6 separate regions of the Homo sapiens genome follow, and all the other regions are reported to be linked to region 1. The links are microRNA targets in miRTarBase. Many come from high-throughput screens and were not tested one by one. Region 1 holds a microRNA gene; each other region holds the end of a gene's coding sequence. Distances are between the middles of the regions.
Evidence for each region. The annotated mature microRNA hsa-miR-3672 reads AUGAGACUCAUGUAAAACAUCUU and lies in region 1 at 1,868-1,890, shown strand. An mRNA with a match to its seed (bases 2 to 7 or 8) in the 3' UTR can be bound and repressed. Matches are read on the target gene's strand: a 7mer-m8 pairs with bases 2 to 8, a 7mer-A1 pairs with bases 2 to 7 and ends in A, and an 8mer does both.

Region 1 (5,075 bases):
AGAAACTCAAATTCTGTAGAAAAAAAGGATATTAATTTGATCAAAAATGTGCAAGAAAATTTTAATAGACATTTCTCAAAAGGAGACATACAAATGCAAACAGGCATATGAAAATGTGCTCAACATCATTGATTATCAGAGAAATGCACATTGAAACTCCCATATGATATCATCTCACCTCAATTAAAATGGCTTATATCCAAAAGTCAGCCACTAACAAATGCTGGCGAGGATGTGGAGAAAAGGGAAGACTCCCACTCTGTTGGTGAGAATGTAAAATAGTACAACTACTATAGAGAACATTTTGGAGGATCCAACAATCCCACTGTGGAGCATATACCCAAAGAAAGGAAATAAGTATCTGCACTCCCATGTTTGTTGAAACACTGTTCCCAATAGCCAAGATTTGGAAGCAACTTAAGCGTCCATCAACAGATTAATGGATAAAGAAAATGTTGTACCTGTACACAATGGAGTATTATTTAGTCATTAAAAAGATCAAAATGGATGGAACTGGAGATCTTTATGTTAAGTGAAATGAGCCAGGCACAGAGAGACAAACATCACATGTTCTAATTTATTTGTGGGGTCTAAAAATCAAAACAATTGAACTCATGGACATAGAGAGTAGAAGGATGGTTGCCAGAAGCTGGGAAGGGTAGTAGCAGAGGACCAGGAAGGGAATGTGGGGATGGTTAATGGGTACAAAAACATAGAAAGAATGGGTACAAAAACATAGAAAGAACATAAGATCTACATTTGACAGTACAACAGGGTTACTATACTCAATAATAACTTAATTATACATTTAAAAATAACAAAAAGGTGCAATTGGATTGTAAAACAAAGGATAAGTGCTTGAGGGGATGGATTCCTTATTCTCCATGATGTGATTGGTACGCATTGCATGCCTATATCAGAACATCTTGTGTACCTCACAAATATATATACCTACTATGTACCCACAATAATTTATTTTAAAAATTAAAAATTATTAGCACAATAAATAAATTGAAGTGAAATATATATATGATATATTTTCAATCATCTCAAATTTGTTAGACTTGTTTTTTGGCCTTACATATTCTCTGTCATGGAATATTTTCTTTATACGCTTAAAAAGACTACATGTTCTGATGCTGTTGAATAGAATGTTCTGTATATGTCTGTTAGGTCCATTTGGTCTATAGTGTTGTTCAAGCCACTTGTTTTCTTACTCATTTTCTCTTTGGATAATCTGTCCATTGTTGAACATCGGGTATTGAAGTGGACTGTTATTTTATTGCTGTCTATTTCTCCCTTCAGTTCTGTTAATAAATACCTTATATATTATATTTAGGTGCTCCAATATTGCATACATAGATGTATTTACATTTGTTACATCTTGTTGATGAATTTACCCCTTTATCATGATATAATGACTTTCTTTGTCTATTGTGACAGTTTTTGACTTAAAGTCTGGTTTTTTTCTGATGTAAGTAAAATAAATGTAGCCAACTAAGCTCTCTTTTAGTTACTATTTGCATGGAATATCTTTTTCCATTTCTTCACTTTCATCCTCTCTGTGTTCTTAAAAGTAAAGTGAGTCTTCTTACTTAGCATATAGTTGGATTCTAATTTTAAAATCGATTTAGTCACTCTGTTTTTTTATTGGTAAATTTAATTCATTTATATTTAAATAACTTATTAATAGGTTAAGTGTTTATTATTGCCATTTTGTTAATTGCTTTCTGACATTTTGTCATTCCTCTATGTCTTTCTTCCTCTATTTCTGTGTACCTTTGTGATTTATTTCTGTAATGGTATGCATTGATTTCTTTTTTTATCTTTTGTGTATTTACTACACATTTTTTTCTTTGTGATTACCATGAGACTCATGTAAAACATCTTAGACTATTACAAGATGTTTTATGAGTCTCATGATAATCACAAAGATTACTATTAAAGCTGATAACTTTGAACATGTTAAAACAACCTTACACTTCAACTTTTTCTTCCCCCCATTTTATGTTATTGATGCCACACTTCATATCATTTATATTGTGTATACTAAAAAGTTATTATAGTTATTTTCATACCTTTTTCTTTTGACTTTTGTGCTAGAGTCAAACATGATTTATGTACCACATCATAACGTAAGAGTTTTTTTTTTTTTTTTTAACGGAGTCAGGCTGGAGTGCAGTGGCGCTGTCTTGGCTCACTGCAACCTCTGCCTCCTGGTTTCAAGCGATTCTCCTACCTCAGCCTCCCGAGTAGCGGGGACTACAGGTGTGGACCACCATGCCTGGCTAATTTTTGTGTTTTTAATAGAGATGGGGTTTCACTATGTTGGCCAGGCTGGTCTCGAACTCCTGATCTCGTGATCTGCCTGCCTTGGCCTCCCAAAGTGCTGGGTTTACAGGCGTGAGCCACTGCGCCTGGCCACATTAGAGTATTCTTAATTTGACTATGTTTGTTTTTTGGGAGTTTTCTACTTTTCTCTCTTTTTGTTGTTAGTGTCCTTTCTTTTCAACTTGCAGGCCTTTCTTTAGCATTTCTTGTAAGGCAGGTCTAGGGGTGTTTAATCCCCCTAGCTTTTCTTTGTCTGGGACAGTCTTTATCTCTACTGCATATCTGAAGGGCAACTTTGCCAGATAAAGAACTACTGATTAGCAGTTTTATTATTTTATCACTTTGTATATGTCATCCTACTCTTTTAGCCTGCAGGACTTCTGCTGCAAAATCCTCTGATACTCCAGTGGAAGTTGGTTTGTATGTGACAAGCCTGTTTTCTTTTGCTGCTCTCAAAATTCTCTCTTTGTCTTTGAATTTTGAGAATGTGCTTATTATGTATCTTGAAGAGGTGTCTTTATGTTTAATATATTTGGGGCTCTTTACCTTCGTGGATCTAGATGTTCACTTCCTTCAGATATGAGAATTTTTCTGTCATTATTTACTTAAAGAAATTTTCTGCCCCTCTTGTCTCTATTCTGTTGGGCCTCAAATAATGTGTATATTGGTCCATCTGATTGTGTCTCATAAATTCTGTATACTTTCTTCATAATTTTTTATTCTTATTTCCTTTTGTTGTTTTGACTGAGTAATTTTGAATAAGCTGTCTTTGAACTCACTGATTCTTTTTTTGTTTGAGTCTGCTGAGGAAGACATCTGTGGAATATATCAGTTCAGTCATTGAATCGTTGCGTTCTTTAGCTCCAGGATTTCTGCTTGGTTATTTTTTAATGTTTTTTTTTTTTTTTCTCTTTGTCGAACTTGTTGTTCTGCTCATATAATGTTTTCCTGATTTTGTTTGGTTGTTTGTCTATCTTGTACTTCGTAGTTTTTGTTTGTTTTTGTTTTTTGTTTTTTTGAGACAGGGTCTCATTCTGTTACCCAGGCTTGAGCGCAGTGGCATGAACACAGCTCACTTCAGCCTCAACCTCTGGAGCTCAAGTGATCCTCCTGCCTCAGCCTTCCAAGTAGCTGGGACAAGAAGCTGGGACTATAGGCATGTACCACAATGCCTGGATATATTTATATTTTTTTGAGATGGAGGCTTGCTCTGTCCCCCAGGCTGGAGTGCAGTGGTGTGATCTTAACTCACTGCAACCTCTGCCTCCCAGATTCAAGCAATTTTCCTGCCTCAGCCTCCCGAGTAGCTGGGATTACAGGCGCCCACCTCCACGACCAGCTAATTTTTGTGTTTTTAGTAGAGACAGCATTTCACCATGTTGGCCAGGCTGGTCTCAAACTCCTGGCCTCAAGTGATCTGCCCACCTCGGCCTCCCAAATTGCTGGTATTACAGGCATGAGCCACCTAAGTTTTAAATATTTTGTAGAGACAGTCTCACCACGTTGCCCAGGCTGGCCTTGGACTCCTGGGCTGAGGCAATCTTCCTGCATTGACCTCTCAAAGTGTTGGGTTTACAGGCGTGAGCCATCGTGCCTGGCCTCCCTGAACTTTTAAAGATCATTATTTAAAATTATCAGGCGTTTCATAGATCTCTATTTTTAAGGTCAGCTACTGGTACTTTATTCTGTTCCTTGGGTGGTGTCATATTTCTTTGATTATTCATGATCCTTGTAGTTTTGTGTTGGTATCTGCACATTTGAAAAAGTAGGCACCTCTTTCAGTCTTTACAGACTGGGTTTGGCAGGGAAGCTGACTTTACCAGTCAGCTTGGCTAGAGGGTCTTGTTGGGTCAGCAGATGGAATCCGTGTTCGGACTTGGGTCTGGAGTTCTTGGGCAGGCTGGCCTTGTTTTAGGGCCTGGTGCCTAGGTTCACTATAGCTGGCCTTGTGTACGGATCTGCAGGGCCAGGCCTTGAGCTCAAGCCTGTACAGGTAGGCCTGGTGTCCTGGTTCATAGGGTTGAGCCTGGCTCTGGGTACATGGGGTTCAACCTTGCAGGGAGGTAGAACTTGAGCCTGAGTTGGGGAGGGTCAGCTTTGTGTGGGGGTGTGCTTATGTTTTGGGTCCACAGGAGCCAGTCTGACACCAGAGTATGTCTGGAGTCTGAGACTGTGGGGTCTGGTTTGGACCTGGGTCATAGGGGCTGGCCTGAAGTCTGGGTCCACAGATGCTGGCCTAGAGCCTTGGGCCACAGGAACTTGCCTTGTGTTGAGGTTGGCCTAGGGCCTGGGTTCACAGGTGCCAGTCTGTGTCCATGAGGGCCTGCTGGGAGCCTGATGCTGTCTGGGCTGGCTCAACACTGGGTGGGCCTGAAGCCTTGTTCCACAGAGATGGGCCCGGAGCCTGTGGCTGTGGTAACTAGCTTGGCATTGGGGTGGCCCTAGAGCCTAGGTCCATGGGTGCTTGCCTGGTGCTGGGGTCTATAGATAAGGTGAATGCTTATCCACTGTCATTCTTCCATGTGGAGGATGTGTCTGTCCATGCTACACTGTGAGGGCTTTGGGGAGGGGTGGTGTGGTTATTTGTGTAACTGTCTCACACACCACATACCCTTTTCAATGCATTTTATTTTATTTCATTGCTCCACCCAGTTGCTGCAATCACTTACATAGATTCCTTAACTGTTGTGAAGGTACTTTCATGAGTGGGTAATTTTTCAAATTGATGCTTCTTTGAGGAGTCC
Region 2 (5,075 bases), not on the chromosome of region 1:
TCAAGGGATCCTCCCACCTCAGCCTCTCCAGTAGCTGGTACTACAGGCAGTCACCACCACACCCAGCTAATTTTGTTTTTTTTTTTTTTTAAGAGATGGGGTCACACTATGTTGTCCAGGTTGATCTCAAACTCCTGGCCTCAATTGATCCTCCCGCCTTGGCCTCCCAAAGTGTTGGGATCACAGGAACCATCACTCCCGGCCTCCTTCCCAAATCTTTTTTTTTTTTTTGGAGGCGGAGTCTTGCTTTGTCACCCAGGCTGGAGTGCAGTGGTGCAATTTTAGCTCACCGCAAGCTCCACCTCCCAGGTTCAAGTGATTCTCCCACCTCAGCCTCCCAAGCTGGGACTAAAGGCACACGTGCCACCATGCCCGGCTAATTTTTGTATCTCTGGTAGAGGCGGGGTTTCGCCATGTTGGCTGGGCTGGTCTTGAACTCCTGACCTCAGGTGATTTGCCCACCTTAGCCCCACAAAGTGCTGGGATTACAGGCGTGAGCCACTGCACCTGGCTCTTCCAAAATCTTGACTCTGGACCTCTGATCTTCAAATCCAAAGGGACCCACTCAACCTCTCTTCTCTAGCCCCTCCCTCTGCATGGCGTGCCTTCCCCACCTCTCCTTCCAACCTGACAGACTTCTCTCCCTCCTTTGCCTTGTCTACAGCTCCGGCAGCTGTTGAAGAGGAGCCGTGTGGCGCCGCCAGGCCTGTCCTCTTAGGACTCAAACCCAGACCCTGGACTGATTTTCCAGTCCCCACCGTCCTGCGGGACAGCCAGCGTATGCTAATGTTGCAAACCCATGATAATGTATGTGGAATATCCTGCCATTGGGGTTTTACATTAAAACCCCAGAATGGCTGCAGAGGGGTGAACAGGCCCCAATATTTGGGGTGCTGTGATACCCCTCTTCTACCCACAAGGAGCCCTCTTGATGATTTCTGTGAAATCGAGGCCCCTTGATTGTTTCTGTGAAACACCCTGCACCCCTAGTCCTTTCCCCACTGAGATCTTTCGGGTTCTCTCCCCTAACTCAGCTCTTCGTTCCCAGAAACCCAGATGTAATCCCCCTACGTGGTGCTTGGGGCATCCCGATACCATCTCAGTAAATCTCCTACAATGGCCTCCTCACCCTCCCCGGGACCCACACCCTTCAGGTCCTCACCCTGAGACAGGAGGGACCCTCTGAGATCAGGGACCCTTAGGTCTCACTGCTCTCTGATTCAGAGCTCAGCTGGGCCCCCAGTTCCAGACCCCAGCATTCCCGGTCACTCCCTCCCTAATCTGAGCATCACTCAAGCTCTTTATTAAACTCAATTTGGGCCAGATTTGGTGGCTCATGCCTGTAATCCTAACACTCTGGGAGGCCGAGGCGGGCGGATCACTTGAGGTGAGGAGTTTGAGACCAGCCTGGCCAACATGGTGAAACCCTGTCTCCACTAAAAATACAAAAACAATTGGCTGGACATGGTGGCATGCGCCTGTAGTCCCAGCTACTTGGGAGGCTGAGGCAGAAGAATTGATTGAACCCAGGAGGCGGAGGTTGCAGTGAGCCGAGATTGTGCCACTGCACTCCAGCCTAGGTGACAAAGAGAGACTCTGTCTCAAAAAAAAAAAAAAAAAAAAATTTAAACTCAATTTGGACTAGAACCACTGTTGTCTGATCTCTGGGGGCACTGGTGCAGGGGAGTGGCTGTGATGCCCGCTGAGGGGTCATATTGGGATGAATGTGCCTGAGGGGGGAGGATGTAGCAGCCACCATGGGTGCCAAGTCCATATCCTGTCACCCTCACCCTGGCGACACAAGAGGGACTGGCCTTTAGGAGGCCAAGGTGTGAGGATCACTTGAGGCCAGGAGTTTGAGACCAGCCTGGGTGTCAGCCCCAGAATATTTGCCTTTGGGCAATCTCAAACCACTGGTGCGGCTCTGCCCCAGGTATGAGCATGGCAAGTGTTGAAAGCCAGGGGGTTCGTGTCCACTTCCCACTCCAGCAGCCCTCAGCCAGTTACTGATAGGAGATAGTCCCCCACCTGTCTGTTGGGCTAACTTGGAAGTGCATGGCCTATGCGGGCTCCAGAGTTCCCCAGCAGATGAATCCCCAGTTCCCCACAGTGGTCTGGGCTTGATAAAATACCCTTTATTGGCTGCTCTTTCTTCTCTGTGTCTCTTCCTGTCTCCCCTACCAATGTTCTCCATCCCTTCCAAATGAACTTTCCCTCCAATCCTTCCCTCCATAGCTGCTTTTGGAGAAACCCAAACTAAGAATTCCACAAAACCCCATTCTCAGCCAGGCGCAGTGACTCACACTTAAAATTGCAGCACTTTGTGAGGCCGAGGCGAGCAGATCACCTGAGGTCAGGAGTTTGAGACCAGCCTGGCCAACATGGCAAAAACCCATCTCTACTAAAAATACAAAAATTAGCCAGGCGTGGTGGCGTGCGCCTGTAATCCCAGCTACTCAGAAGGCTGAAGCATGAGACTCGCTTGAACCTGGGAGGCAGAGGTTGCAGTGAGCTGAGATTGCGCCACTGCACTCCAACCTGGGCGACAGAGCAAGACTCTGTCTCAAAAAAAGATACAAAAAAACCCCCAAGGCTGGGCGCAGTGGCTTATGCCTATAATCCCTGCACTTTGGGAGGCGGAGGCGGGTGGACTACCTGAGGTCGGGAGTTTGAGACCAGCCTGGCCAACATGATGAAACCTTGTCTCTACTAAAAATACAAAAAAATTGGCCAGGCGCAGTGACTCACACCTGTAATCCCAGCATTTTGGGAGGCCGAGGCGGGCGGATCATGCGGTCAGGAGATTGAGACCATCCTGGCTAACACGGTGAAACCCTATCTCTACTAAAAATACAAACCAAAAAAAAAAAAAATTAGCTAGGCATGGTGGCGGGCACCTGTTTTCCCACCTACTTGGGAGGCTAAAGCAGGAAAATTCCTTAAATCCAGGAGGCGGAACTTCCATTAACCTAAAATCCCACCACTTTTCTCCACCCTGGGCAACAAAACAAAATTCCGTCTCAAAAAAAAAAAAAAACCCAAACCCCATTCTCATACCCGCTCCACAGCCTCTGCTCTGGCCTCTGCAATATAATCACACAAAGAGCCCCCATCCCAGAAAGCCCTTGGACCCATCACAGCCCCCATAGCTAGGAACCTTTCATGGACCACAGACCGAATGTACATGTTAGCACATTCCGGGGCTCCAGCCAATGTCTCCACCCCAAAACTTAAGGCTTAAACCAACACCCTTTTAATTATTTCTTTTCTTTTTTCTTTTTTGAGAAGGAGTCTCAGTCTCACCAGATTGGAGTGCAGTGGCGCGATCTCTGCTCACTGCAACCTCCGCCTTCCAGGTTCAAGCGACTCTCCTGCCTCTGCCTCCCAAGTAGCTGGGATTACAGGCACCCACCACCACGTCTAGCTAATTTTTGTATTTGTTTAGTAGAGATTGGGGTTCCAGCATGTTGGCCAGGCTTGTCTCGAACTCCTGACCTCAAGTGATCCACCCACCTCGGCCTACCAAAGTGCTGGGATTACAGGTGTGAGCTACCGCGCCCAGCCCCTCTTAATTGTTTCTGACTGAAATCTACGCCGGGTTCAGCTGGCTGTTCTGCTGTCTCCCTTTGGTTCCTCATGTGGCTGCAATCAACCTGAGGCCCAACTGGCCTGGAAATCCACAACACCTTCACTCACATGCCTGATAGCTCAGCTGAGATAATGGAGCTTCCAGGAGTGGCCCAAGAGTCTTTCCATGCAGTCCAGGAGGGCAGGTGGATCTCTTAACTTCAGGTGGTGGCTCAGTGGTTCCAAGAAAGAGAGATCCAAGGAGACAAGTCCCTGCTTGTATCATACTTGTTGACATGTCATTGATCCCAGATCAGTGTGGGAGGCATTACACAAGGGTCTCAATATTGGGAGACAGAGTTATCTGGGGACTGGGCGAGGTGCCTCACTCCTGTAATCCCAGCAATTTGGGAGGCCAAGGAGGGCGGATTACTTGAGGTCAGGAGTTGGAGACCAGCCTGGTCAACATGGTGAAACCCTGTCTCTACTAAAAATACAAAAATTAGCTGGGCATGGTGGCGGGTGCCTGTAGTCCCAGCTACTTTGGAGGCTGAGGCAGGAGGATCACTTGAGGCCAGGAGTTTGATGCCGCAGTGAACCATGATTGCAGCACTGCACTCCAGCGTGGGAGGCAGCAAGACACTGTCTCTAAAGTAAGTAAATAAATAATAATAATAAAATAAAAAATACAGAAGAACTTAATTGGGATCATCTTATAGTCAATTGTGTGACATAGTTTATATTTTGCCTTTTTTTTCCTTTTGTGGTACCTAAAATAATGCTATTTTTTATCACTGATGGCATCTGAGGTTTTGTTGACATATAAGATGTATATCTCAATTTGTATTGTTATGGAGTGCATGTTTGTGTCCCTCTAAAATTCATTTGTTGAAACCATAAGCCCCAGTGGGGTAGTATTTGAAGATGGGCCTTTGGGAGGTAGTTAGGTCATGAGGGTGGAGCCCTCATGAATGGGACTAATGTCCTTGTTAGAAGAGATGGGAGAGTCCGGGCGTGGTGGCTCATGCCTGTAATCCCAGCACTTTGGGAGGCCGAGGCGGGTGGATCATCTGAGGTCTGGAGTTCGAGACCAGCCTGACCAACATGGAGAAACCCCGTCTCTACTAAAAAATACATATTAGCCAGGCATGGTGGTGCATGCCTGTAATCCCAGCTACTCAGGAGGCTGAGGCAGGAGAATCACTTGAACCTGGGAGGTGGAGATTGCGGTGACCCGAGATCATGCCATTGCACTCCATCCTGGGCAACAAGAGTGAAACTCCATCTCAAAAAAAAAAAAAAAAGAAGGAGACAGGAGAGAGCTTGCTTCTCTGCTCTCTACTCTCTGCCATATGAAGATGCAGTAAGAGGATGGCCATCTTGGGCAGGGCACACTGGCTCACACCTGTAATCCCAGCATTTTGGGAGGCCAGGATGGGAGGATAGCTTGAGCTCAGGAGTTTGAGAACAGCGTGGGCAGCATGGTGAAATCCTGTCTCTACTCAAAA
Region 3 (5,075 bases), 98 Mb from region 1:
CTTTCTTATTTGAAAGATCCTATGATTGTTTATGTTGGTAATCTGAATCTAGTGGCTGTAAATACAGTGAAGCAAAATATAATTGTTACCACAGAAAAAGAAAAACGAGCTCTCACCCAAGAATTCGTAGAGAACATGTCACCCAACGACAAAGTCATCATGTTTGTCAGCCAAAAACATATTGCTGATGACTTGTCAAGCGACTTCAATATCCAAGGCATATCTGCAGAATCATTACATGGCAACAGTGAACAGAGTGATCAAGAGCGAGCAGTAGAGGACTTTAAAAGCGGAAACATAAAGATACTGATTACAACTGATATAGTATCCCGAGGTCTTGATCTTAATGATGTCACACATGTATATAATTATGATTTCCCAAGGAATATTGACGTATATGTACACAGAGTAGGGTACATTGGACGGACAGGAAAGACTGGCACATCAGTTACCCTCATCACTCAGAGAGATTCGAAAATGGCCGGTGAATTGATTAAAATTCTGGACAGAGCAAATCAGAGTGTTCCGGAAGATCTTGTAGTAATGGCTGAGCAATACAAGTTAAATCAACAAAAGAGGCACAGAGAAACACGATCAAGAAAACCTGGACAAAGACGCAAGGAGTTTTATTTTTTAAGTTGAAAAGTTGTACCAGGCTACTGGAAGATTCCAGGCATGTTAAAGATATGCAGTATTGAATATATGTAAGGAAGTATTGGAAACATACTAGCCATTTGAAGACATAACTAATTCTTAAATAATACTGCTAAACTTTCAATATTGTGTATGCTCCTTAATTTTAAAAAAGTCTCAAAAATGAGAGAGTGAGAGACTGTGTGAAGAGAAAGTGAATGTTACGTGTTGGTTAAAGTTTAATTTCTCTTAAAAATACTTTTATTTTAGGTTTGGGGGTATATGTGAAGGTTTGTTAAAGAAACACGTGCCATGGGGGTTTATCAACTTTCAATATTGTGTATGTTCCTTAATTTTAGAAAAAGTCTCAAAAATGAGAGAGAGACTATGTGAAGAGAAGGTAAATGTTATGTGTTGGTTAAAGTTTAATTTCTCCTAAAAATACTTTTATTTTAGGTTTGGGGGTATTTGTGAAGGTTTGTTAAAGAAACACGTGTCATGGGGGTTTATCAACTTTCAATATTGTGTATGCTCCTTAATTTTAAAAAAGTCTCAAAAATGAGAGAGTGAGAGACTATGTGAAGAGAAAGTAAATGTTACGTGTTGGTTAAAGTTTAATTTCTCTTAAAAATACTTTTATTTTAGGTTTGGGGGTATATGTGAAGGTTTGTTAAAGAAACACGTGTCATGGGGGTTTATCAACTTTCAATATTGTGTATGTTCCTTAATTTTAAAAAAGTCTCAAAAATGAGAGAGTGAGAGACTATGTGAAGAGAAAGTAAATGTTATGTGTTGGTTAAAGTTTAATTTCTCTTAAAAATACTTTTATTTTAGGTTTGGGGGTATATGTGAAGGTTTGTTAAAGAAACACGTGTCATGGGGGTTTACTGTACATATTATTTCGTCACCCAGGTATTAAGACCAGTGCCCAATAATTATCTTTTCTGCTCTTCTGCCTCCTTCCACCCTCCCCCATCAGCTAGACCCCAGTGTCTGCTGTTTCCTTCTTTGCGTTCATAAGTTCTCATCGTTTGCTTCCCACTTATAAGTGAGAACATGTGGTATTTGAGTTTCTGTTCTTGTGTTAATTTTATAGTCTACCATGTCCATTTGTCTTCTCTAAAACACTTGGTAGAAGACAACAATGGTGCTTTTCTGGCTTTAAAATAGTTGTACTAAATTGAAGCATAGCTTCAAGCTTATCCAGTCAAAGTATTCTCTTTTCCCCCGAGCAGTTGGTGCCACAACAGTTCTTAAAGTTATTTCCACTATCATTCTCTACTTGTTTTAGTTCATTAGAAAATAAGTGCTAAATTTTTTAGAAGATTCCACAATTCTATTTTTATCAGAATGATGTCACCAGCAGAGCAGGATGTCTGACTCACTGGGATTCAGGTCCTTGTATGCATTTTGTCACTAACCCTTGGTTAAAACTCTGAGGAAATCACTTGCCTTCTCTAGGCCTCAATTTCTCTACTCATAAAATGGGACAGTTTTATTAATTTAGAGGTCTCTTTTACCTCTAAAATTCGGTGACATTATAACTAAAACTGTATACCCCAGCCTTGTATTAACACTTTTTTGTCTAATCTAGGGGAAATTGCATCCTTGTATAATTGAATAAAACAATCCTTTTCAATGACAAGAATAGTGCATTCTGCATTTTTATTGATTTTGCAATTTAACTGGTAGGTTTTCATTTTATTCTTTGCTTTTCTTTTCATCATGCTTTATTTTAATTCAATTTGAAGGTCAAAACCATATATATATAGATACATATATCGGGGAAAAAATTAAAGTGAAAGAAAAATTTATCTACTGGGAAAAACATTAAAACCAATCAAATAAGGGCTGGGTGCGGTGGCTCACGCCTGTAATCCCAGCACTTTGGGAGGCCGAGGCGGGCGGATCGCCTGAGGTCAGGAGTTCAAGACCAGCCTGACCAACATGGAGAAACCCTGTCCCTACTACAAATACAAAATTAGCTGGGTGTGGTGGCGCATGCCTGTAATCCCAGCTACTCGGGAGGCTGAGGCAGGAGAATCAGTTGAACCCGGGAGGGAGAGGTTGCAGTGAGCTGAAATCGTGCCACTGCACTCCAGCCTGGGCAACAAGAGCAAAACTCTGTCTCAAAAAAAAAAAAACCAAAAAAAAAACCAAATGACGTTTTTGCCATAAGAACCAATTTTAGTAAAACTCTTCCTAATTTTATCTATAATTCTACCTCTTATGCCTTATTTAGAAGCAAGGTGCTTCTCACACCTGCAAAAAGAAATCCCTACAAAGATGTTAAGTAAACTTTAAAATTCAGTGTTCATGAAAACATTAGAATTAGTTAACATTTCTGGTAAAATCAAGAGAAAAATTAAGGCAACAAACTTTTTTCCCCAGCATGCCTTACCTGTGACTACAAATAAGTCAGAAAATAAGGGAAAGAAAGAAGTAAATGTTCTAGGTATAGGTATTTAAGGCTTAAAGTATAGACTTTAAAGGCTTTTTAAAATGTAGACCTTAATATCTCTGGATAAAATTAATAACAATGGTTAACATTGTTGAGTGATACATACCTGGCGCTTTATCTCCTAATCTCTAATATTTATAAGAACGCCACTCGGAAGGAAATCTTACCCCTATTTTGCAGGGGATGAAGCAAAGTCAGAGGAGCTAACTTGCCTAAGGGCCCTAAACCTGATTAAAGAGAAATTAAGTGATATTTAGAGGACTTAAGGGATATTTTGACCCGGCAGTGCCTGATTCCAATATTTATATTTTTTAATTTTAGTATAGTTATTATGTTTAAAGGCAATATGCTTGTCTTGAGGTTCTCTACAAGTTCAGATTTAGTGAAATAGAGAAGTGTGTGCAAATTTAATGCAAAGGCAATCTATAGCAGAACTGTAATAGAAGCTCAAATGGCTTAGTGCTGTTCACTCAAGAGGAGAAATGATAAATGTTTAGCAAGTTAGAGTATATGTTATTTTCCAGAATTATTCTTAGGGGCAATGCTATATTTGTTAGAAAAGAATGCAACAACTCAACCACTTGAGATAGTATATTTCCATAATCATGTGTAAGTAACACTTAACAAGAAAAATTATCACTCAATGTCTATGAGTAAGGAAATGAGAGATGTATGCATTTCTTCTACAACATAATGCTGGACAGAAGAACCAGTGTATAGAGAAAGATAAGTAGAAATAGTGCAATGACTGTTAACCAAGGGTGATTTTGCTCCCCAGCGGAACTTTGACAATATCTGTGGACAGTATTGGTTGTTACAGCTATGGGTAGGGGGTGAGGTGCTCCTAGCATCTAGTGGGTAGAGGCTGAACACCCTACAATCTACAGGACAGCCCCTCACAACAAAGAATTATCTGGCACAAAACAATAGTGCTGAGATGGGGAACCCCTGAGACAGCATAAGAAAAACAACCAAAACCAACTGCTTAGTAACCAAAAAGGCACGTCAAAGAAAAAAAAAAAATAGAGGGTTTCTAAGTTATATCTTGCGGGTTTTGCAGAGAAAAAGTATCCCTACAAACTTCCTGTCTTTGGTGTAGTCTACATCAGTGGTTCTCTACCAGGCCCAATTTTGTCAATGTCTGGAGAAAGATTTGGTGGGTTGTTGTCTTAGTCCATTTTCATACTGCTATGAAGAAATACCCAAGACTGGGTAATTTATAAAGAAAAAGAGGTTTAATGGACTCACAGTTCCACATGGCTGGGGAGGTCTCACAATTATGGTGGAAGGTGAAGGAGGACAAAAGGTGCATCTTACATGGTGAGCAGGCAAGAGAGTTTGTGTAGGGGAACTCTCATTTATAAACCATCAGATCTCATGAGACTATCATGAGAACAGTGTGGGAAAGACCCACCCTCATGATTCAATTACCTCCCACCAGGTCCCTCCCATGACATGTGGGAATTATGAGAGCTGCAATTCGAGATGAGATTTGGGTGGGGATGCAGCCAAACCATATAATTCTGTCCCTGGCCCCTCCCAAATCTCATGTCCTCACATTTCAAAACCAATCATGGCTTCCCAACTGTCTCTCAAAGTCTTAACTCATTTCAGCATTAACTCAAAAGTCCACAGTTCAAAGTTTCATCTGAGACAAGGCAAGTCCCTTCCACCTATGAGCCTATAAAATCAAAAGCAATTTAGTTACTTCCCAGACATAATGGAGGTACAGGCCTTGGGTAAATCTGCCCATTCCAAATGAGAGAAATTGCTTAAAACAAAAGAGCTACAGGCCCATGCAAGCGTGAAATCCAGCTGGGCAGTCAAATCTTAAAGCTCCAAAATGATCTCATTTGACTCCAGGTCTCACATCCAGGTCACGCTGATGCGAGAGGTGGGTTCCCATGGTCTTGGGCAGCTCTGTCCCTGTGGCTTTGCAGAGTATACCCCCTCTCCCGGCTGCTTTCATGGGCTCGAAATG
Region 4 (5,075 bases), not on the chromosome of region 1:
TTTGGATATACTCTAGGAGTTAAATGATAAACTTTTGAATAGGGAAGAAGGTGGGGTGGTGAAATTTGAAGGCCAAACATATGCTTTCAAACAAAAGAATTCACTCCATTTCCTTTTCCACTTTTCTACATTTTCCAGAAGAACTGATGACCACCCCAATTTTACAGCCCACTGAGGCCCTGTCCCCAGAAGATGGAGCCAGCACAGCACTCATTGCAGGTAATAGACTCTGAGCCAACTCCAAGGGACCTTCTGGATCAAGGGCATCTCTCTCCAGAGGGAGCCTGACCAAATCCATTAATGGGCTCACTCTGGCTTGTAAGTTATATTACACACACACACACACACACACACACACACACACAGCCATAAAAGACTCGGAGGCTTCTGTCAGAGGCACTACCAGTAAATGACAGGTTGGGAGGTGGCCGCAAATAGATATGCATACGGACGTTACACTTGAGTACGTGGGTAGGGACGAGGATATATGTGGTTGGTTGAGTGGGTGAGGAAGAGGGGGAGGATCAGATAAACCACTTCCTGTTAGGATAAGCCATTTCCTGTTCCCTCCTTCCCGTTTCTTTAAGAATCAGGAACTGGTTTGGGAGGCAGTTCAGTTTTGTCAGAAATCAAAAGCATGTGTCCTTAGCTTAAGCACCAGGAGACTCCAGCTATTATGTGCCATGGAAATTGGGGTTGGTGGGGGAACATGGGTTTGGATGGAAGTGGACACTAGTTAATGAAAACAAGAGGATCTTTACGAAAACAGTGACTAAATCAGATGACTCCAGGAACTACTGAGACATCCTCAATCCTGAAACATCTCTACATTTTCCCTCTCCTTTCCAAGTTGTTATCACCGTTGTCTTCCTCACCCTGCTCTCGGTCGTGATCTTGATCTTCTTTTACCTGTACAAGAACAAAGGCAGCTACGTCACCTATGAACCTACAGAAGGTGAGCCCAGTGCCATCGTCCAGATGGAGAGTGACTTGGCCAAGGGCAGCGAGAAAGAGGAATATTTCATCTAATGACTCCCAGGCCCCAAGGAGCTTATTCCTGGCTCCATCGCTAACACGTTGACTGCTTATTATGGGAAAGTTTTCTCTGAAGCCAGGGAGAAGCATTGATTGATGTGGGCAAATCCAAGCTCCAGCCAGGTCGCAGTCCCAAATGCCGACATCACTGACTCCAGGGACCAGGGACATGGAGAAAGCTGTTTATGATATCTTTAACCAGGCCCTCTTACTAGAGCTGGTGTTTGTGACTGGCCAACAAGATGTGGCTATGCCAGGGGACATCTGAGTATGTGCCCAGTCATCTTTTTTCACAGGTTGAAGGGAGAGAAAAGATTTTGAGTTAAGGTCATTGGCTGCTCTACTCTGTCCCCTACCTGGTCACCTAGTGATAGCCCCAGTGGAGATACTGTCCATACAAGGTCTTCCCAGAGGCTGGATACCACAGTAAAAGGCCAGGCCAGGAGGGGTAGGAGACTATGGAGATCTTACCTCCTGATAAATGTGCTACACCCCCTAATCTGAGCCCTTCCTTTCCGTGTTCCCCAACAACCTCATGCTTACGTGATTTTTATTCAAATTAAAAATTTTCATTGCTACAGAAATCAGATTCTCATGTGCAAGAAGTAACTACATTTTGACTTATTTTTGCTTAAACATTTTTGACATTTTCTTTTCCCTATTTAACGCCTTTACATATGTTCTCTTCCAAGCAATAAGAACCCTAGGAAAGTTCTAGAAGTTTGCAGAACTATCTCAGGGATTTGAGACAAAGATGGTGCAGGAAAGCTTGTTCCAGGGGAACATCATTAGAAACATACCCTGGGAGGGCCGGGTTCGGTGGCTCACGCCTGTGATCCCAGCACTTTGGGAGGCCGAGGCAGGCGGATCACAAGGTTAGGAGATCGAGACCATCCTGGCTAACACGGTGAAACCCCGTCTCTACTAAAAATATATAAAAAAAATAGCTGGGCGTGGTGGCGGGCGCCCATAGTCCCAGCTGCTTGGGAGGCTGAGGCAGGAGAATGGCTTGAACCCAGGAGGCGGAGCTTGCAGTGAGCTGAGATTGCACCACTATACTCCAGCCTGGGCAACAGAGTGAGACTCCGTCTCAAAAAAAAAAAAAAAAAAAAAAGTACCCTGGGAGATGAGTTGGTTCAAGCCTCCATCCTGGCAAGGGCCAGAATTTCCCAGAATCCCTTCTACATATATACAGAAGGAACCAGAAAAAATCAACCTACCACCTTTCCCAGTGTATCCTCAGAATCAAGCCAAGAAGCTTCTTGGATTTTAGTCTCAAGATAAGTTGTGTTTAAAAGGCACATTTTGGTATAAATTATTAGCTCATCAGATATTGTTCACTTTGGAATTAAAGCTAGATCTCCTTTGAAGTCTTAATGTATTGCCTCTGTTGTCCAAGCTCAAACCCAACCAAGTTAAGATCAAGAGCTGAGGAATCTGGCTGGGTGCAGTGACTCACTGCCTGTTATCCCAATACTTTGGGAGGCTGAGGCAGACAGATCACTTGAGGTCAGGAGTTTGAGACCAGCGTGGCCAACGCAGTGAAGCCGTCTCTACTAAAAGTACAGAAATGAACCAGGTGTTGTAGCAGGTGCCTGTAATCCCAGCTACTCAGGAGGCTGAGACAGGAGAATCACTTGAACCCGGGAGGTGGAGGTTGCAGTGAGCAGACACTGCCACTGCACTCCAGCCCGGGTGACAGAGGGAGACCCTGTCTCAAAAAATAAATAAAAGAGCTGAGGAATCTATCTTGGCAACCTAGATTCTATGAGTTTTCAGTATTTCTCCACATAGAACATTGGAGAAACTAAAGGTCATCCTCAACGTATACAAATTGCTATACCAGAACCTTTTCTTCAAGCCAAACTTTAGAGCAAGTTAGGAGAATCAATAGTTCCCTCATTTCTAAGTTTAGGTCCGAAATTCCAAAATTTGTAAGAGGTTGGAGTAAAATGATGAAAAGTTGAACATCTGGAATGGAATTCATGAAATGATCAAGTCTTAGGCTTGTACTCCTGCCTTTATTTCAAAGCGTCATCAAAGGAAACAGAGCAGCAGCAGCACCTAGCTGAATTCTAGATGGGATATAAATAAAATATATATAGAAGAAATCTAAAAACAAGCTAAGTAAAGAATCCTTGCAGTGAGGTGTAATGCAACTTCATCACTTTATTCAAATCTTCAAAATAGTCTTTATTCTACATTTTTAGTATAAAAATTCCACAAGTTAAGTGCACCACAGTGTAGAGAGAGACATACAACGCTGAACTTCCATAACAGTCAATGGTACAGTCAAACATCACATGTACAGAACACACAATTTAGATGAACTGAAATTATAAGATAAAATAAAATAAAATCCAATTTCAGAAAACAAAAATCAAAACATTAAGGATCCCTGAAATATTCTTAAACCCTAATGAGATTTCACTGGACTCAAGTCATTTTGTAGTGAGACATTCACAATATGACCCTATTAACCCAGTCTAGGAATTCTGGGGAGCCGAATGAGTGGCCGCATCAGACACTCTGACAAAAAATGGTAACCAGTTTTTGATCTGAAAACTCCTCTTAATTTAGCTCTGAACACATCAATCAAGCTTTTGAAATGCATCCTCCTCCTTGCCCCTCATATTTTAAACCAACTGTTGTTCACAGTACAGTTTGCACGACATCTTTGTTCAAACATAGCTCAGTTTTTCTGGCACCAAAGCAAATTTGGGTTAGGTTCGTGTATGCAGAGACAACCTATGAGGAGGGCCCATAAGGCACCCTCCACTTTTGCCTGAGGAGATACGAAAGCAGAAGTAATGGCATCTGTACTTGGGGCACAGAGAGGGTTTCAGAGGATCCTTGTGAAACACTAGTTAAAAGATGACGAGTGGGGAGAAGTGCGAGGAAAGAAGGAAATTAGTCTGACTGGCTTTCTGTCCTGCACCATTGATTCAATGGAGACTGGCGGGAGGAAATGGAAGACTAGGGTTGGAGATGGGATGGGTGGGGCAAGGGATGGAAAGGAAAAGGCAGACAACTAATGCGTTCCATTTATAACAAGTAATATATATCAAAGACTTAAAGGAGATTAAAGACCAATCAGAATAATTTGGCAACTTTAATTCTTAGGAAGATCAAAGTTCCCTCCAAACCTAATTTGATGTTTTATTACTAAAAGCAAAGACCAGTATGGTACAGTATTACTCCAGAGAAATTAAAGGAAAATCCTTAGGGCGGCTTCACCCACATTCATTTTATGAATGGATACCTCCCCTACCTCAAAATGCTTTAGGGAGGTACTGCTACCATTACATGGTTCCTTATTAAATTTGAAAAGTGCCTGAAAGTTTGGGCACCAGAAAGACACCCCAACAACATGTGTCTAAACTGCAACTTCAGGTTAATATGACTAAAGCAGTTACATTGTGAGAAGTGCTGAAGGTATGTGATGTCTTTCCCGGCACAGAGGTGGCCTTGGTTCCTCACCAGATGGTGTAGCCACCATCTGAACCACCCATGAAGAAGTTCCCCTTCCGCTGAGTTACGAGGACGTTGGCTCCCTGCATGACTGCAAGCTGAGCAGCATTGGGAGGGCATCCAGGAGGTGGAGGCTGAAAGGAAATGACATGATAGAATGGGCACAGGGCAGCTAATATAAGCGAAGGGGACATAGGGGAAGCAGAGGCCTGTTAGGATGAGGCAATGTGCTAACCAGCTGCGTTTTAAGGAGCTAGTTCCGCCACCAATTTGAGTTCTAAAGTAGGTCTATACTTTATGTGAACCCAAAGATACAAACAGGAAAGGGAGCCTACCACTCATTCAAAGGGTTCCAGCTCTAAGATGAAGCCTATGGCTACCTTCTGAACATGAACAGACCAGACCAACAGTCATTTTGAGGGTAGAGAACCACTGTCCTACTCACATTCCCAAAACAGGGACAGGGTGCCAGTCCATGTATGAATCCCACATGGTCCCTACATAGTTTTTAATTTTTAATTTTTTTTTTTTTTAATTTTTTTGAGATAGAGTCTTGCTCTTGTCGCCCA
Region 5 (5,075 bases), not on the chromosome of region 1:
TGGGCACTGAGCATCCACGTGAAGCAAGTAGCAGGGTATCTGTAGGTTCTGGGACTGAAAAAAAAAATCCCTGTAAGTTCTTGGCTTAGTAGCCAAAAAATAATCTTTGCTTTTTATACCTCCCCATTCACAACCCCTTTGGGCTAAGCTGATTTAAAAAACATTTTTTTCTTAGATGGGGTCTTGCTGTGTTGCCCAGGCTACGCTCAAATTCTTGGGTTTAAGCAATCCTCCGGCCTCAGCCTCTCAAGTAGCTGGGATTGCAGGCTGCATCCGCACCCAGCTCCTAACAATTTTTTTTCCCCCTCTTATTGAGCCAGGGTCTCACTCTGTCACCCAGGCTGGAGTGCAGGGGTGCAATCATGGCTCACTGCAGCCTTGACCTCCCAGGCTCAAGTGATTCTCCCACACAGGTGGGACTACAGGCAGGCACCACCATGCCCGGTTAATTTAGAAAAAAATTTTTGTAGAGACAGGGTCTATCTTGCCCTGGCTGTCCTAACAATTCATAATCTTCATGAATGTGGACAGTTTGAAGGAAAACCACTACTCTCACCTCTTTTTCTAAGCACACGGTTATAGCAAGTAGAGATTAAAGCTCATTGGCTTACCTAGAACACCAAGAGAGGAAAGATACCTTGGGAATTAGGTCATAGCAATGCTTCAAACAACAACTGCCCATAACCCTACAAATCCTTGCAAAACAACAGTTACTCACATTCTTTCTTCACGGCCTACGGCATGACTGGCAGTTCTGCACTGTTGCCCAATCCCGGATCACTAGGAACCAGAAATCCTTATCAATTTGGAAAAAGGGGAAAAACATAAAAGTAGTGGTAAATGTCATCACTTTTTTCCTCCCTGAGAAATCAGGAAATCTCTCCATGGAAGCCACTCATCCCCCTGGTTTTCACCAATAAGAAGGAAGCAAAGTGTATAACACACTAGAAAATTCAGCTAGGCTGAACTAGTTGAGAAATTTAGATGCAGGCTCCCTTAGGTAATGAAGAAATTTGAAAAAAAATTTTTTTTAAAAGCCAAAGGAGCTAGCTTAAGCCCCTAATGAAAAGCCTCCTCCTGAAATGTAAGGCTAAGTGTACAAACAGAACCAAGGCGTCTGATATGCTATCTTCAAAGCCCAGCACCACCATATATTGGTTTTCTCTAGAGTTGGAATTTTAAAAATCAAGAACTTGAAGGTACAGAAAGAAAGAAAGGCCAAATAAAGGAAGAAGGCATTACGGAGACAAATCACTGGAAGCATGTTCAACTCCTTGGTGTTTGAAGAGGCATGACACAAACATAGAGCCCTTAGTGGTTGTGTAGGATGCTTCTGTTCACCTTGATGACTACAGAAGCAAGAATCCTGTTTTAAAATCCTTGCCCTATCATGAATGTTTACGATAGTGACTAAAGCACTACGATGGCTGGATTCTTCAAACAAATAAGCAGTACTTTGGGGGTTATGGAGACTAGAAGCTTTTTTTAAAGGTAAGGATTTCTTATCCAAAGCAAAGCAAAAAGTTGAAAAAGTGCTATAAAGTCCATGCCCCTGCTAAGTTAAAGCTTAAAAAAAAAAAGATGCGAGGAGAAACCGCCACTGCTGCTTGGTCCACTCCTCATATGGGCTTTTGACATCTCCTAGCTATGCATTTCCTGGCTTCTGATGTGATCTGCTGAAAGAGGTCTTATAAACCTGAAATAGGTAACAGCAATGCTGAATAAAAAGAGGAATGAGAAAAAGTGCTAAGGACTAGTCACACCTCTATCAATCGACTCAGATGATCAGTTTTGGTAGTCATGGTTAACCGGTATCTGTTTGAATCCTATCAGAGTCTTGAATCAGGCCGTGTTAAACTGTGTAAGAAACTACTCTTGTATGCCTCAAATCGACTTATTCTCAATGACTGTATTTATATATACTTGTATTCCTCCAAGTACTTGGATAAATGATGATACCTAGGATATGACTGGACCCTAGATTTACATTACAGTTTCAAGAAGAGACAACCAACCATGTATAATGTCTACATAACATTTTGTTCTTTAGAAAGTACAGAGGTCCTGCATAGATCACAGGAGATTTGTCTCTTCAAAATAAACTTGTAACAAAATTACACTTATCTTGAAATAACTTTGTACCAACAAAGTGATATAGATATATTTTAAATGCCGGTACTGACATTTGAATTTGCAGTGACTTCATGCAAGCCAAAATAAAAAGACTAGCAGGTAAGTTCATTGCTTATAAGTTTGTGACTTTTACAAACCCTACGTTTACATTAGTAAATAGTAACTGCAGTGCAAAAGCTATGTGGTATTCCAGTGGGATTCTATGGTAGGAAACTAGATGTGCAGAAAAGGTTGACAATGTATTTGATTTTATAGGACTCCTATTTAGTTACCACAACCTCCTTCTTACTTTAACCTATACATGCTAAATATAGTCTCTGCATCTCTCCTTGGTTCTTTCATTCATCTTTTTCTGTTCTTTAAAAAAGTAAAATAAAACTTTGGAATATCTCAAGGGCTTATTAAAGTTCTCAGATGCTGACAGTGACTAAACATAACTCATACTCAAGACATTAAAAACAAAACTTCACAAACAATAATATTGCTTACATCCTCTGCTATACGTAATGTGCACAAACATATCACAGCTGATGACAACACACCCAGGAGAATTTGGATTGAGAATCTTTACCGATAAAAGGAGCAATTTCAAAAACTTAAATGTGTAACATGACTTTTTTTTTTGAGACACAGTTTTGCTCTGTCACCCAGGCTAGAGTGCAGTGGCACAATCTCGTCTCACTGCAACCTCCGCCTCCTGGGTTCAAGCGATTCTCCTGCCTCAGCCTACCAAGTAGGTGGGATTATAGGTGCCCGCCACCACGCCCAGCTAATTTTTTGTCTTTTTAGTAGAGACGGGGTTTCACCATGTTGGCCAGGCTGGTCTTGAATTCCTGACCTCAAGTGAGCCACCTGCCTCAGCCTCCCAAAGTGCTAGGATTACAGGTGTGAGCCACCGCACTCGGCCTGTAACATGACTTTCATACACTGTTTTTCCATTCTGTTCCCAATCCTTCTCCTGTAATACTTGATGGATACAAAAAGACAAACTGATCCTGGGTATAATATGCCAAAAGTCCTCTTCACTTAAACTTTGGTTCAACTGAAAAAATAACTTTAAAATGGTGATTTTCAGATTTGTTCTTTGGTCAGGCAGTATAAAGCTCTCTGAAAGAAGTCCCTTTACCTGGTTATAGTATGAAAACAGTCAAAATAGAAAATGTCAGTTTAGGAAAGAGATCTATGTGTTCAGAATTTCTCAGAAAAAAATAAAAAATATGTAGACAGGCAGACCCTAGCCCCAGATGCCAGATTCAATTGACTTAGGACATCAAGAATAAAAGAGAACTAGCATTCAGAAGAGTAATATTTAAGTGGGTTAGCTTCTAAGAGGCCTAAATTAATAAACCTAATCCTTAAATAGGAACATGATAAATGCTTTCTGAGCAGAGGATTTACCAACAGTTTCCTTTATCAGTTTAAATCCTAATCTGGACCCAGACCTAGCCAGAGACTGTCATAATTTTCAAACGTAGAAAGCAGTAGGAAATGCAAGCCACAGGCTCTGCAAGGAGTAATCAATTCTTTGCACACTGCCACTGCCCCTGCCCCTCACCCACCAGGAGTGCACATCACTCTACGGAGCAGCTTTGTACCCAACACTCAGATGTGAGAGTGGCCTTCTCACCAGGGTGGGATATGGGTGCTCTGAAAACAGTAAGTGCTTTAAAAAGGGGGTGGGACGTGTTACGGTTAGAGCTTGGGAAGAACCAGAATTTGCGCACATCCTCAGACTGTGACCATTATGAAGAAGTATTTGATGGTAAAGGAAGAAATCATCTGGTGACCAGAAGAAAATGGAATAAGACCAAACCCTTGGGAGATTACACAATGAGCCTTTCAGCAGTCATCGCTTACTGTTTTTCTTAAAAGGCTAAACTTAAGATTAAAGGGTGAAAACTTCCGTTGATTACTTGAATGGTTAAATAAGGATTCCAAGGTTGGCCTTGAGACCTCTGAGACCTGGATGGGAAGTAAGTGGAAGGCACTTGCTCCCTAGGGAGGAGGGCCAGGTAAGTATCCAGGCTGCGGAGCCAGGGCCAGCAGTAGCTCTTGATGGGCCCAAGTCTGCAAGGTGCTGGGAGAGGGGAATGGCCTGTGTGGTTAGCCAGAGACAGGCTAGGGTCAGCGTGATTTCACAAGTAGAATGGTTGCAAAATAAAATGTTTTTTTAATGGACTGAAAAAGCAAAGTGAGTCACCTTCGTTTTTAAAGGTGAGATTTAGCAAAGGAAGGATTAGAAGCAGTTTTTTACTATTTACAAAATGTCATTTAGAGTGGAGGTGGCCACCTTCAGTAGCTGAGGCAATGTCTTTCACGTGAGATGGCCACAGAAGTGTGGTTCCTGGAACTGGCTCACAAAGGCCACAGGCTGTCCTGGGTGAGGGAGAGTTCCTCTGAGGGAGCACCAAAAAGGCTCAGTCTTCTGTTTCTTCATACGTCGTCTCGTCAAAGGGCCTGTCCAGTAGAGGTACCAACCGATGACGGGAATACTTCAGCTGCAATAGGTCCCCAACTTCATCTATCTCCTTTAAAGCCTAAAATACACAAGACAAAGTAGAGGTCTGTCAGAGCCAGTAGGATGCAGGCATGCCTGGTGTTTTACTTTGCTAAAAACAATCATGGCAAGATTATCCTTCGGCAGGACTTATGTCTAGTGCATTTACAAGATCAGACTACAATACAGCTGTGGAAGGAGCTGCTTTTTGAACAAGGCCTTCAAGCTCACCATGAATAATGGGTTGTGAATAGCCAGGTATGCAGAATAAAGGCTATAATTCAAAGTATGATATGCTTGGTAGAAAAAGTTATATGCACTCTGAACTTACAAAACCGAATACAATTTGTCATCTCTCCCTTTTGTTTTTGAGATGGAGTATCGCTCTGTTGCTCAGGCTGGAGTGCTGTGGCGCCCTCCGAGCTCACTGCAACCTCCACTTCCC
Region 6 (5,075 bases), not on the chromosome of region 1:
CCTAGCACTTTGGGAGGCTGAGGAGGGTGGATCACCTGGAGTCAGGAGTTCAAGACCAGCCTGGCCAACATGGCAAAACTCCATCTCCACTAAAAATACAAAAATTAGCCGGGCATAGTGGCAGGCACTTATAATCCCAGCTACTCAGGAGGCCAAGGCAGGAGAATCGCTTGAACCAGGAGGCAGAGGTTGCAGTGAGTCAAGATCACAATACAGCACTCCAGCTTGTACAACAGAGTGAGACTGCCTCAAAACAAAACAAAAACCCAAAAAACAAAAACAACAAAAAACCCTTGTGTGCCTAATGACAAGGGGATAACCCAAACCTCCAAAACGCCTGAGTCAGGCATTCAGAGTTCATTTGGAATGTTTGTTTCTAGTAGGACTCAAAATATGCCCTGATTATCACCATGAATTCTGTGGCATCTAGGCTTTGGGCATCTTGTTTCCTCATCCTACCCTACCCACCTGCTATTCTCAGTTTTCCTTATAATAGCAGAGAAAGCAGTTGTGCTATCAAAAATAATAAACATATCTATCCATTAAGTTCCTTATATAATATTCAAAGGCTGTGGTTTTGGGTGGAAGCAGAGATGTTCATGTTACACAGACTTACTCTTTTTTTTTTTTTTTTTTTTTGAGACGGAGTCTTGCTCTGTTGCCAGGCTGGAGTGCAGTGGCGTGACCTCTGCCTCCCGGGTTCAAGCGATTCCCCTGCCTCAGCCTCCCAAGTAGCTGGGATTATAGGCACGCACCACCACGCCTGGCTAATTTTTTTGTATTTTAGTAGAGACGGGGTTTCACCATGTTGGCTAAGATGGTCTCATCTCCTGACCTTGTGATCCACTTGCCTCGGCCTCCCAGAGTGCTGGGATTTCAGGTGTGAGCCACCATGCTTGGCCTAAACAGACTTAACTTTTAGACACTGACAAAACTGAAGGCATCTTTCTGACCAATCACCTACTCAGGATCCCTCCCCCAATGTTTTACCAGTATATTCTGATAAAAGTTCTAGAGTCCGTGAAAGAAACTAAGGATAAAAGAAAGTCCGTGTCAAGTTGTACATTATACAGATGCCTATAAATTTTATTCATTTCCTAAGCTTACATCAAATTCACAACTTTCTTTTTTTTTTGAGACAGTCTCGCTCTGCCACCCAGGCTGGAGTGCAGTGGCACGGTCTCAGTTCACTGCAACCTCCACCTCCTGGGTTCAAGTGATTTTCCTGCCTCAGCCTCCTGAGTAGCTGGGACTACAGGAGCATGCCACCACGGCCAGCTAGTTTTTGTATTTTTAGTAGAAACGGGGTTTCACCATCTTGGCCAGGCTGGTCTTGAACTCCTGACCTTGTGATCCACGTGCCTCAGCCTCTCAAAGTGCTGGGATTACAGGCGTGAACCACCGCGCCTGGCCCACAAGTAACTATTGTTGCTTTTTCTAATTTTCTAGGATTTTATTTTTTTAAATTTCTTTTTAGTAGAGATGGGGGGTCGGGTCTTGCTATTTTGCCCAGGCTGGAGTAGTGGCACGATCTTGGCTCACTGCAACTCTGCCTCCTGGGTTCAAACAATACTCCTGCCTCAGCCTGCTAAGTAGCTGGGATTACAGGCATAAGCCATCACACCCAGCCTTGAGGATTTTCTTATACTGTGTTTGAATCCACATGACTGATAATATGCTTAATGTTTGAGAAATTATAACCTTGCAATTGAGGTTAATGATCTACTAACTACCTTTGTGTTGATCAGATTGTGTACAATCTGGAAAAGACAACGACTAATCCAAAGAAATGAAACTACAGAATTTCAGGCATTGTAATTATACCTGTAAGAAGTTAACCTAGCAGAGAAAACGTTTAACTATCCCTCCCATCACCATCACCATTCATTCTATTTGACAAACAGGAGGCATCCAAATATTTGCTAGGGGAAAGTCATCCCTGATCATCCATAAATCACACTGTAACAATCTCTTCTCAACAAAGCCTGCAGTAACTAAACCTCAGAAGTTCACTGTTATAAACTTTTTCTTTCAACTTTACAGGGGCTGTTTAGAAATATATGGCCAAATCTGTAACCCGGAAACAGCAAAAAACTTCTTAGCAAAGGATCACTAAGTACCCTTTGGATGTACTCTTCCAACCAGACAAGAGTGCCAGAAACTTGGCAAGCAATTCATCCTGTGGAAGTTGCAAATACTGGCTGACCTGCTTAAAAAGATTCTAGAGTTGGCCGGAGGCAGAACATGTCAACTCTTTGCTGGATTCTATTTCATCTGCTGTTGATACTGATCTCAATGCACCAAGGAAAGGAAAGATGAGCCTCCTGTCTTCCAGCAACAACCCTCACATATGCACTGAGTGAAGGATGAATGTATGGACACATCTGGGAGTATTTTAAAGAATGTATCTTGCCTTGTGTTGACCCAAACCAAAAACATTTTTGAGGGGCACATGTGGGGTCAAAAAGATAGCCAATTTCCATTACATGGGTTTACAATTTCCATTCTTTTGTGCCACGAGTGTTAGAATTTAAATGAATACTTTTACAAAGTCTACTTTTTGTTCAAGGATATGCTGACCCATATAGTTTACTCTTAAAATTGTGTCAAGGTATTTCTCACTATACTCTAAAACAACTAGACTTGAAAAGAAACCATTTGAGATTTGAATCTAATGGTTAACGCTATTCAGATTTTCCCAAAGATCTTACCTCATGAAAGTAGTTCTGGGTCAGAATGATCTACTCAGTTAAAAAACAACAACAACAAAAAACTAAGCGATTGGGAAAAAACAGGAATTTTATCTGGTTATTGCATCTGGTGATAGAGGCCTTCAAAGCCTATTATTTCTAACCTAAGTAAAGGCCCCAGTGAAAAACATACTGGGGAAATAAAACCTCTGAGAAAAGGTTCAAGCACCTTTTCCAAATTTAAATCTTGCCTTAAATTCTCTCTACCACACTGCCTTTGACACTCTTGGAAGTCCATGTAGTTCTCTACAGATAGACTTCAAAGAAACGTTACCTTATCAAAGACTAATCTGTGCCACCTCTGATTCAGTGTTTTATGTCTTTCACTTTCCCTGGGAAGGAGTAAAGTTCTTTTCTACAGCTCTGGGACTATTACATTTAATTCTGCTCTTGATAGTCAAAGACCATGGACAACAACTGTCATCTGAAGGACTCTTCTAGAAGCCAGAGACTGGTGTTTGATGGATGTTTTATACTAAATAAAACCCATCAGCATGGGGTTATGTAGAAAAGCAATTTATTCCATTTTAAGCACTTACACAGTTAGTCATGGAGAGTAACAGGCCTGCTGGTGAAACAGGTCACCCAAAATGGAGATGGCATCAAACTAGTGGTCAAGGACTAACTCCTAAAAAAAAAAAGCAACTCTTATCAAGGATTAATTTAATTTTTAAAACAAATACAAGTTATTGATTCACTCTTCTCAACTTGACAGTCTACCTGTGGTATAACTGTCAGGTAAAAACATACATCTTTACAACTTGGTGGTCCCAAGTTAAAAAAAAAAAAAAAAAAACCAACAACAAAAAAAAAAACACCATTTCACAGACAGGAAATAAACAACATGAAAACAGCTCAAGAAATACACTAACGAGCAAAAATATATGAATATATGGGGAAAGAGGAACGTGTTGTTTTGACTTAACTGAAGAAACCAAGAGGAAACTGGTCTACGTATGAAAATGTGCATCCTGGAAAGTCAGGTGTCAAGATTTTCGAGTAGGAATCTATATGACTTGAATCTCCCCCTATTTCCTGAATAAAAGTGACATCTTTCAGTATTTATACTTCATGGCTCAGACACCTACCTCATTTGGCTCTATTCCTTACTCACTCTAGCCTTTACTTAAATGAGTCTGAAAAACTTGGGGATATAGCATAAGAAGAAAAATAATCACACATAATATTCCCCTTTCTGTAGCTACTTTAGACCTGGGTTACTAGAAAATTCCTGAAGAAAATTTCAACGTTAAGTCTGTGGCTTTGTTGAATCAAGCCCCCCTATTAATATTTAGAAAACACCCACGGTTTGGGCTAATAGCATTATCGGTGGTACCTATTATATAGAGGGATAGCTGAATAAAGTCTGTCTCAAAACCAGTGTTAAATCACTCTCAGGGTTGAGAAGAAAAAAGGGGAGTCTAAAATCACAACAAGTAAAGACATATCTAGGACCCTTGTCCTTCTGGATCCACGCTTCCTTCAGGGTCTTCATCATTATAAATGTTCTCTGCCTGCCCAAAAACAAGAAAAAGAATTTAAACATGAAGACTTCTTCTAAAACTCAAGGTTTCAACAACAGATTAGGCCAGGAAGCCAGAGAGTAAATACTTTATAGCTTTTGGGCCACACAATCTGTGTTACAACTATTCAACTCTTGGATGAAAGTATCCGGAGACAACCTATAATGGGTAATGAAATATTAATTAGCATGATCATGTTCCAATAAAAATAAGCAGCTGATCCCCAGACGCCTGATTAGGACATTCCCACAAAACTGCAGTGTGGATACTATTTGTCTTGATAGCCAACATTCTTGAGTTCTTTAACCAGGCATTATTATTTTTCTTTCCTTTTGAGATGGAGCCTTGCTCTGTCTCCCAGGCTGGAGTGCAGTGGCACCATCTCGGCTCACTGCAACCTATGCCTCCCAGGTTCAAGCAATTCTCCTGCCTCAGCCTCCAGAGTAGCTAGGATTACAGGCACATGCCACTACGCCTGGCTAATTTTTGTATTTTTAATAGAGATGGGGTTTCACCATGTTGGCCAGGCTGGTCTCGAACTCCTGATCTCAGGTGATCTGCCCACCTCGGCCTCTCAAAGTGCTAGGATTATAGGAGTAAGCCATTGTGCCCAGCCTAACCAGACATTATTAATAATAGCCAAAAAGTAAAAACAACCCAAATATCCATCAACTACTAAAATGGATACACGGTATATCCAATCCATATGATGGAATATTATTTGGCATAAAAAAGCCAGTCAGGCCAGGTGTGGTGGCTCATACCTGTAATCCCAGCACTTGGGAGGCTGAGGCAGACAGAT

Region 2: miRTarBase lists NFKBID as a target of hsa-miR-3672. The part of its 3' UTR that is shown has no 7-base or 8-base seed match.
Region 3: the mRNA of DDX53 is a reported target of hsa-miR-3672. Seed matches in the 3' UTR shown: 8mer at 807-814, 8mer at 997-1,004, 8mer at 1,182-1,189 and 8mer at 1,371-1,378.
Region 4: the mRNA of SMAGP is a reported target of hsa-miR-3672. Seed matches in the 3' UTR shown: 7mer-A1 at 2,123-2,129 and 8mer at 2,307-2,314.
Region 5: the mRNA of SPTLC2 is a reported target of hsa-miR-3672. Seed matches in the 3' UTR shown: 7mer-A1 at 4,080-4,086 and 7mer-A1 at 2,756-2,762.
Region 6: miRTarBase lists RBBP4 as a target of hsa-miR-3672. Seed matches in the 3' UTR shown: 7mer-A1 at 1,134-1,140, 7mer-A1 at 638-644 and 7mer-m8 at 239-245.

The regions. Positions count from the first base shown.
Region 1 is chrX:121,369,119-121,374,193 of GRCh38, forward strand. MIR3672 (microRNA 3672) reads left to right here and starts at 1,854; the gene lies at 1,854-1,935.
Region 2 is chr19:35,884,202-35,889,276 of GRCh38, reverse strand. It overlaps NFKBID (NFKB inhibitor delta), which reads left to right. Exons shown (of 12, transcript NM_139239.5): 12 at 665-1,325. The coding sequence ends at 718. Among named protein-coding and RNA genes, the nearest start is that of NFKBID, 14 kb to the left of the region's middle.
Region 3 is chrX:23,001,312-23,006,386 of GRCh38, forward strand. DDX53 (DEAD-box helicase 53) reads left to right here. Exons shown (of 1, transcript NM_182699.4): 1 at 1-2,278. The coding sequence ends at 642. The region is part of intron 3 of PTCHD1-AS (PTCHD1 and PHEX antisense RNA); the gene reads right to left. Among named protein-coding and RNA genes, the nearest start is that of DDX53, 3.9 kb to the left of the region's middle.
Region 4 is chr12:51,241,895-51,246,969 of GRCh38, reverse strand. SMAGP (small cell adhesion glycoprotein) reads left to right here. Exons shown (of 4, transcript NM_001031628.2): 3 at 139-219; 4 at 851-2,412. The coding sequence ends at 1,029. DAZAP2 (DAZ associated protein 2) reads right to left here. Exons shown (of 4, transcript NM_014764.4): 4 at 3,037-4,640. The coding sequence ends at 4,512. Among named protein-coding and RNA genes, the nearest start is that of DAZAP2, 5.6 kb to the right of the region's middle.
Region 5 is chr14:77,507,734-77,512,808 of GRCh38, forward strand. It overlaps SPTLC2 (serine palmitoyltransferase long chain base subunit 2), which reads right to left. Exons shown (of 12, transcript NM_004863.4): 12 at 1-4,670. The coding sequence ends at 4,551. Among named protein-coding and RNA genes, the nearest start is that of ISM2, 11 kb to the left of the region's middle.
Region 6 is chr1:32,678,829-32,683,903 of GRCh38, reverse strand. RBBP4 (RB binding protein 4, chromatin remodeling factor) reads right to left here. Exons shown (of 12, transcript NM_005610.3): 12 at 1-4,264. The coding sequence ends at 4,199. SYNC (syncoilin, intermediate filament protein) reads left to right here. Exons shown (of 5, transcript NM_030786.3): 5 at 2,044-3,998. The coding sequence ends at 2,054. Among named protein-coding and RNA genes, the nearest start is that of SYNC, 21 kb to the left of the region's middle.